Linked DNA regions of Homo sapiens. The protein of the gene in region 1 interacts with the protein of each later gene in a pairwise test. Each region holds a gene or a part of one and is shown on either strand. Other genes may lie near its edges.

Region 1 (3,500 bases):
TAAATGCAAAGACCAGCTCCAAACTATTCTTAGTGTCCCAGAAGCAACCCCAGAAACTCAGAGACCAACATGCCCCTCCGCCTGCTCACCAGCCCACACCCAGCCCAGCCTGGGTTCAAGTTCCCGCCCCTAACTGAGGACTCTTCCCACTTCCCCCAAGCTTCCTCCCCTGGCTGAGGTCTCCCACCAGGGCCGGCACGTTCCCAGCCCTGGCCAAGAGCTCCTGCCAGGACCCCAGCCTTCCTGCCAGGACCTCCACAATCTTGACCCGCTCACCTTGAGGCAGGTGCCACCCTGGGCCCGCTGCAGCTGAACCTCCAGCAGAGCCTTGGTGCCCTCCAGGCTGGTGAGCGTTGTCAGCAGCTCATCCCGCTCCGCCTCCAGGCCCCGCACCTGCTTGCGGTACTGGTCCTTCTCGATGAGGCTCTGTGAGTACTGCAACTGGATCCGGTCACGGCTCTGGATGGCCTAGGGTTGGGGGAGGGGAGGCAGCAGCTGAAGGAGCCACCTTGGCCCAGCTTTCCTGGCCTATGACTTGGAGAATGGGGACAGTAAGGAGAATGGCAGCTATCACTTACTGAGCACTGTGTGCCGGGCCCTGAGCTAAATTATCAGCTCATTTAAATATCTTCACACTAACTGGCTAAGTTAGATACTATTAATATCATTATTCTCATTCTGCAGACTGGGGAAACCAAGCCAGGAGCGACAGAGCTGGGATTCAAATCGGGCAGTCCATCTGCAGAATCCAGGCTCTCACCATTTCACCAAGAACTGAAAACTTTTCCACGAGACCTGCTGTGTGCCAGGGGCTTCACTCCCAGCATCCCAGTCAGTGGAGAAGCCAGGAGTCAAACCCAGCCCACTGCATCCACAGTGAAGACCAGGGGCTCCAGAGCTGGGCCCATGGTCCAGACCTGTCACCCATGCCTCAGAGAGAGCCGGGGGCAGCCCCATAAAATGCAGATTCCTGGGGCCCACCCCAGACCACCTGAATCAGAACGTCCAGAGAATGAAGCCCCAAATTTGCACTTTCAAGCTTGCCAGGGGATTCTGAGGGCATTTCTAATATGCAGACTTCGGCTGGGCATGGGAGCTCATGCCTTTGATCCCAGCACTTTGGGAGGCTGAGGCAGGTGGATCAGTTGAGCCCAGGAGTTCAAGACCAGCCTGGTCAATATAGTGAAACCCTGTCTCTACTAAAGATACAAAAATTAGCCAGGAATGGTGGCATGCCTGTAATACCAGCTACTTGGGAGGCTGAGGCAGGAGAATCACTTGAATCTGGGAGGCCTCAGTGAGCTGAGATTGCACCACTGCACTCCAACCTGGGCAACAGAGCTAGATTCAGTCTCAAAAAGTAATAACAACAATAATATACAGACTTCAACTCCTCTAGTGGGATTCACACCTGGTTAAGGACAAAAACCTCCTGCCCTTCCCCGCTGCAGATGGAACCTCACACAAGGAGGCTCGGGGGCCTGGTGGCACTGGCCGGAGGTCCTCAGCCCACCCCACAACCTTGGCAGGAGACAAGGGTCATAGTGCCCAGGGACTGAAAGCCAAAACTTTTGAGAATTTCTTCATCGGCTTCTATTTGTAAGCACTCCCTCTGTGCTGGCCTTGTCTTTGAGATGGACAGAACAAGGGATTCAAAAATGAAGACACCAGGACCAGCTTCTGTAACTGCCACAGGAGCTCAGATGAGGCCAGTGGGTCCAGGGTGTAAGGCTGGTATCTCAAGGGCTCCAGGTCTCCTGTCTGGTTCCCCCAGCCTTTGTGCCCCGTCCTAACCCAACAGGGAGCGGCTAACGTCTCTTTCTACCATTCTAGTCCCCTCCATTGCTCCTTGTCTCCTCCCATATGGGAAGCAGCAACTGGCCCAGGGCCTCGTACACGCAGGCTGGGCTCACCTGGTCTCGCTCCTTCTCAATCTCCTCCAGTTGGGCCAGGACAGTGGCCATGCGGTGCTTGTACAGGTCACAGTCCTTCTGCAGCGTGCGGTGCTTGAGCCGCAGGTCTTCCATCTCCTGCAGGTACTGAGGGTGGCACGGGGCGGGGTCAGACCACAGGGCTGGGGACCATGAGAAAGCTAACCAGCAGGTGCCCAGGAGGGCCAGTGAGAGACGCTCACCAACAGTCTGAGACCCAATAACAAGTCCCCTCCTGCCCAGTGGAGTGGTCTGAGCCACTGACTTTACCTCACAGGCCCTCAACTGCCTAATCTGTAAAACGAGAAGAATGATCATCATTTCACCCATCCGGCCACCCTTGGCCTCCCCACTCAAACTGCAACCGGCCCCTTCCCCAGCTCTGCATCTCCCACGGTGCTCATCGCCTTTGACTACATGAAATAGCTGACGTGGGACTGTGTATCTCACATACTGCCAGTCTCCCCTGCTGGAGTTCCCCCTCAAGGAAAAGGCACCTTTGTTTTGCTCACTGCGGCATCTCAAGCGCCTAGAAGGGTGCCTCCGTCAACATCTGAGAACAAATGAATGCAGTTCTCAGCGCGGCGCCTGCGTCAAGCAGATGCTCAGGGAAGGCGTGAGCACACAGGCCCTGCCTGACACCCTCCCGCACAAGGGGCAGGGCACGGGCAGGGCCCCACCTGGTCGCGCAGCTCCTCGGCCCACTGCAGCTCCCCCTGCACGGCATGCAGCTTCTGGCACAGCTCCTGCCTGCTGTCCTGCGCCTCCCGCCAGTCATGCTCTAGGATGTCCAGCAGGATGCGCTCGGAGCCCGGGGCCCCCGGCCGGCTCGCCTCCTGGGGATCACAGGGCAGGGCCACCTCAGGGTCTGGCTAGGGGCCCACCCTGGGTGTGGGAAGGAAGGGGACACGCAGCTCTCAGCCCTCCAAACCCACCTGACCAGCTCTGCCATGCTGGCCCGGGGCCTCGACCCTCTCTGGATCTCTGTCTCCCCATCGGCAGAGTGGGTGTGGCCCCACAAGCCCTACCCACCCTCCAGGGAGTATCTGGGGTACAAGTAAGCTAATAAGCTAAGTGGAGAAGGGTGTGACTGGACAAGTTCACCCAGGATTATTCCTAAACAAGCACCAGGCACACACTCGTGCTCTGGCCCTCACCCACCATCCAGGGCAGCAGACGGAGGCCATTCCCAAGACCTACTCCCACCCCCATGACTAGGGGTCTTCAAGGGGCTGAGCCTGGCCCATACAGGTAGACCCTGGGCCCAAGATCTTGCCCCCAGACCCACACCCCAGCCAAGTGCCCCAACCCCATGAAACACACTGGCTCTCATCCCCCACTTCCTGTGTGGAACAATGGCCAGGAGGCAGGCCCATGCAGCTGCTGACCTGCCACTGACCTGCCGCAGGACACTAAGCAAGCCCTAGGGCCCCCAGGCCACACCCTCTACAAATCAAATTAAAGCTGGGGCCCTTTCCCCAGAAAAATGCTCACACTCAAAATCAGGGGGGCAGTTTTAGGGAGTTTGAGGACCTTCTGGAGGCTGCTCACACACCCTAGACCAGACAA
Region 2 (3,500 bases), on another chromosome or scaffold:
AGACTGTTTCTGGACCCTGTTCTACTTTGTACTTTTCTTTCTTTGAGGTTAGACTCCAAAGTTCCCATCCTGTGCCTAAGCCAGTGGATCCTGCTACTTGTCATGTGCACCTGTGCTTCATTGGACAGTGCTGCTCATTCCTGAGACCCAGCCCTCCTGAAATTTGGTGACTGCAGTACCTGGGTCTCCCTCTTTAACCAAATGCTCGTTTTCATCTTGTTTCTTATTTTCTGTTCTGTTCCCAATGCCTTGAATGATACCCTGTCATGGCAGGTGCTTAGTAAGTATCATATACGCAAATGAAGTCTGGTTTATGCTTCCACCACCTCCAGAAATGTCTTTAAAGGGTCTGTTTCTACCTACTGTGATTTCCTCGCATTATGAGTTTCTCAAAGGGTGCCTCCAGTGCCAAGTCTTTAGGCTTTGTTTTTTATTTTATGTTGCTCGCACCCAGGATGACATCTCTACCACCATTGAGCCTGGGCTCTAGTCTGGTATTTTCTGTGATACCAGTTACAGAGCTGCTCTTGTTCTCATCAGGCCTGGAAATTGATCATGACCTATTCCAAATTATAATTACTAATCACCTTTCCACCTCCCTTTATTTACTAAACTATACTAATCTCTTCTTCTTCTATAGTGGTCCCTGTGAAACCACTGAAATTCTCATCAGATATTACTGATCTCTCTGGATTACTGGATTTTGTCCAGTGTGAAATGTCTTCATTGTCCTCTGTATATCCTCAGTTTCCTTTGACTTAATGTAAACAAAGACTAGATGCTGTCATGCTATGAGTCCTAGCTGGATTTGCAGTATGTCTTCATCTAAAGTTTCCAGTTGATATCATCGCTAGCCTCACAAGATAAGCCTATAGTTGGTTACATTTTACTTCCTAAAGGGAATTTTAATTCCTTGTCCCTTAAGGATCTCAACAATATTAGGCCTGTATTACCTGGAAAAAGTAATTTTCTGTTGTTTCCCCAAAACTCTGACTAAACTCCGTTTGGTTCACACTCCTAATGTCTTCTCTTCATGATACTATTGTCCCTACAGCTTTACATTTCATTAGGGTGTGCTTTCCTTCCCCACATAACACATTCTTTAAGTCTGACCTCAAATCTTCAACCCCTCCCTGACTTTTGTCATGACTTCTGTATCTCCCTTCCCTCGACTTCAGTTTCACCTAGGGGTGATAGGATAAAGAAGTGACTCTGATTAAGTAATCTGTTATTCGATAGTGTCTATATTTTGCTTGAGCTGTTTTGCTCTTGGATCATAGTCCTGTAAGGAAAGGGGCATGTTATCCCTTGATGTAGTGTGTAACAGAGAGAGATATTTCTTTCTTTCTTTGATTATCTGAGAAGCTAGGCAGGTGAAAGAACTTTCTTGTCCATCCATTCAGAAATAATTTACAGGCAGTTACTTCTAAATATGCATGCCTGGGCCAAATGTGGTGGCTCACACCTGTAATCCCAACCCTGGGAAGCTGAGGCAGGAGGATTGCTTGCAACCAGCCTGGGTAACATAGTGAAACCCTGTCTCTACAAAAAAAAGAAAAAAGAAATAATGCATGCCTGGGTCACATCCCCATATATTTTGCAAGTAGTGGAAAAATACCTATATGATTCAGATTAAGAACAGCTTCTCTGATTTTTATTCAGAGGTTCAAAGGAAATAGGAAATAGGACCATCCTTCCTAGGAGAAAGGTTGTGGTTAGGAAAAGAGAACAAGGGCTGGGCGTGGTGGCTTACGCCTGTAATCCCAGCACTTTGGGAGGCCGAGGCGGGCAGATCATGAGGTCAGGAGTTTGAGACCAGCCTGGCCAATATGGTGACACTCTGTCTCTACTAAACAATTAGCCAGGCCTGGTGGCGCATGCCTGTAGTCCCAGCTACTCAGGAGGCTGAGGCAGAAGAATCCCTTGAACCTGGGAGGCAGAGCTTGCAGTGAGCTGAGATCGCACCACTGCACTCCAGCCTGGGTGACAGAGCAAGACTCCGTCTCAAAAAAAAAGAGAACAGCGCTGCATGAAGTAATTAAAACTCAGCATTTTACATGGAGTGCTGATGTTCCAATGCAAGGCTGAGTCACTTTGTATTAAAATGATTCTATAGACAGTATTCTCAACTTCAAGGGGAAATGGAATTGAGGTGAGAAAGGATTTGAGAAGTATTTTTTTCAAGCATGGAAATCCCCTACAAAGGTAGGTTTTGAGAAGATGAAGGCAGGAAGTCAAGCAAACTGAGTGAAACAATAAGGGTGGAGACTGTAGGTGAAATGTGCTGGGCATTGATCAGGCACACAGTGATCGTAGCATAAGGCAAGGATAAGAGATAGATCATGACCTATCTCTCCCAGCTTGATGTGACATGAGAAGGTGTAAAGTGCAGACCCACTTCCTCCAGAACAACTCTCTACTTGGACTTATCTTAGGAACCTCCTTGTGCAACAAATAGCTTGCTTTTCCTGCAACGGAATATTTTTGTTAGATGACTGTCATCCTAGCTTGGCAGCATATAGTGATCCCAGGTGGTGAAAAGTATTGTCTCTCAGATTTTTTTCTCATTTGATCTGTTGATATTTTGGCAGTGGGTTCAGGGAAAGCACAGGTTATAGGGGTTACGGTTGATATCGTTTCACTTAATGTGCATGATAGCAAGTACAGTAGTCAGGTTCATCCAGACACTTCTAAGGTAAGTAAAAATAAAATTGTTATTTTAGGAGCATGGTAAGGGATCTGATTTTGTTTGTTTGTTTTGTTTGTTTTGTTTTTTTTTTTGAGACAGATTCTCACTCTGTCACCCAGGCTGGGGTGCAGTGACACAATCTCGGCTCACTGCAACCTCCACCTCCCGGGTTCAAGCGATTCTCCTGCCTCAGCCTTCCAAGTAGTTGGGATCACAGGTGCCCACCACCACGCCCGGCTAATTTTTGTATTTTTAGTAGAGCAGGGTTTCACCATCATGGCCAGGCTGGTCTCGAACTCCTGACCTCAAGTGATCCGCCCGCCTCAGCCTCCCAAAGTGCTGGGATTACAGGCGTGAGCTACCACGCCCGGCCAGGGATCTGATTTGTAAGGTTTGTACACTAAATGCTACTCAGGAGTGGGAAAGCACTCACACTGAGAATTAAGTGATGGTAGTATGTCAGGGTGGGTCTGGCTTAAGCAAATGGTCAGGAGATTGAAAGATGGGAAGAATAATTGCTAAGCTTATCAAGCATGTGTTTTGTGCCAGATGCTGCTCTGAGCACTGCATTAACTGCTGCAATCCTACAACCACCTTATGAGGTAGGTGCCATTATCTCCATTTGGCAGATGAAGGATACTGACTACAGAGAATTGCTAAGTAGCTTGCCCTAGGTCACCTCACCAGAATTCATGCTATTAAATATACTGTTCAAATAGGAACAAGTAGAATTTCATGGTCAGAATGAGTTTAGCATTAAATCATAGCATCATTAGAATACTGAAGTTTCCAGTTGATCTCATCGCTATCC

What was found. The genes of interacting proteins can lie anywhere in the genome.
Region 2: the proteins of CARD10 (region 1) and ZNF12 interact in binary tests that used the Homo sapiens proteins (3 or more experiments, as listed by UniProt).

Annotation. Positions count from the first base shown.
Region 1 is NC_000022.11:37,505,916-37,509,415, forward strand, and holds part of CARD10 (caspase recruitment domain-containing protein 10), read right to left. Parts: intron 2,768-3,500; coding exon 2,612-2,767; intron 2,040-2,611; coding exon 1,914-2,039; intron 469-1,913; coding exon 277-468; intron 1-276. UniProt on the Homo sapiens protein: Scaffold protein that plays an important role in mediating the activation of NF-kappa-B via BCL10 or EGFR.
Region 2 is NC_000007.14:6,693,448-6,696,947, reverse strand, and holds part of ZNF12 (zinc finger protein 12), read left to right. Parts: intron 1-3,500. UniProt on the Homo sapiens protein: Transcriptional repressor which suppresses activation protein 1 (AP-1)- and serum response element (SRE)-mediated transcriptional activity.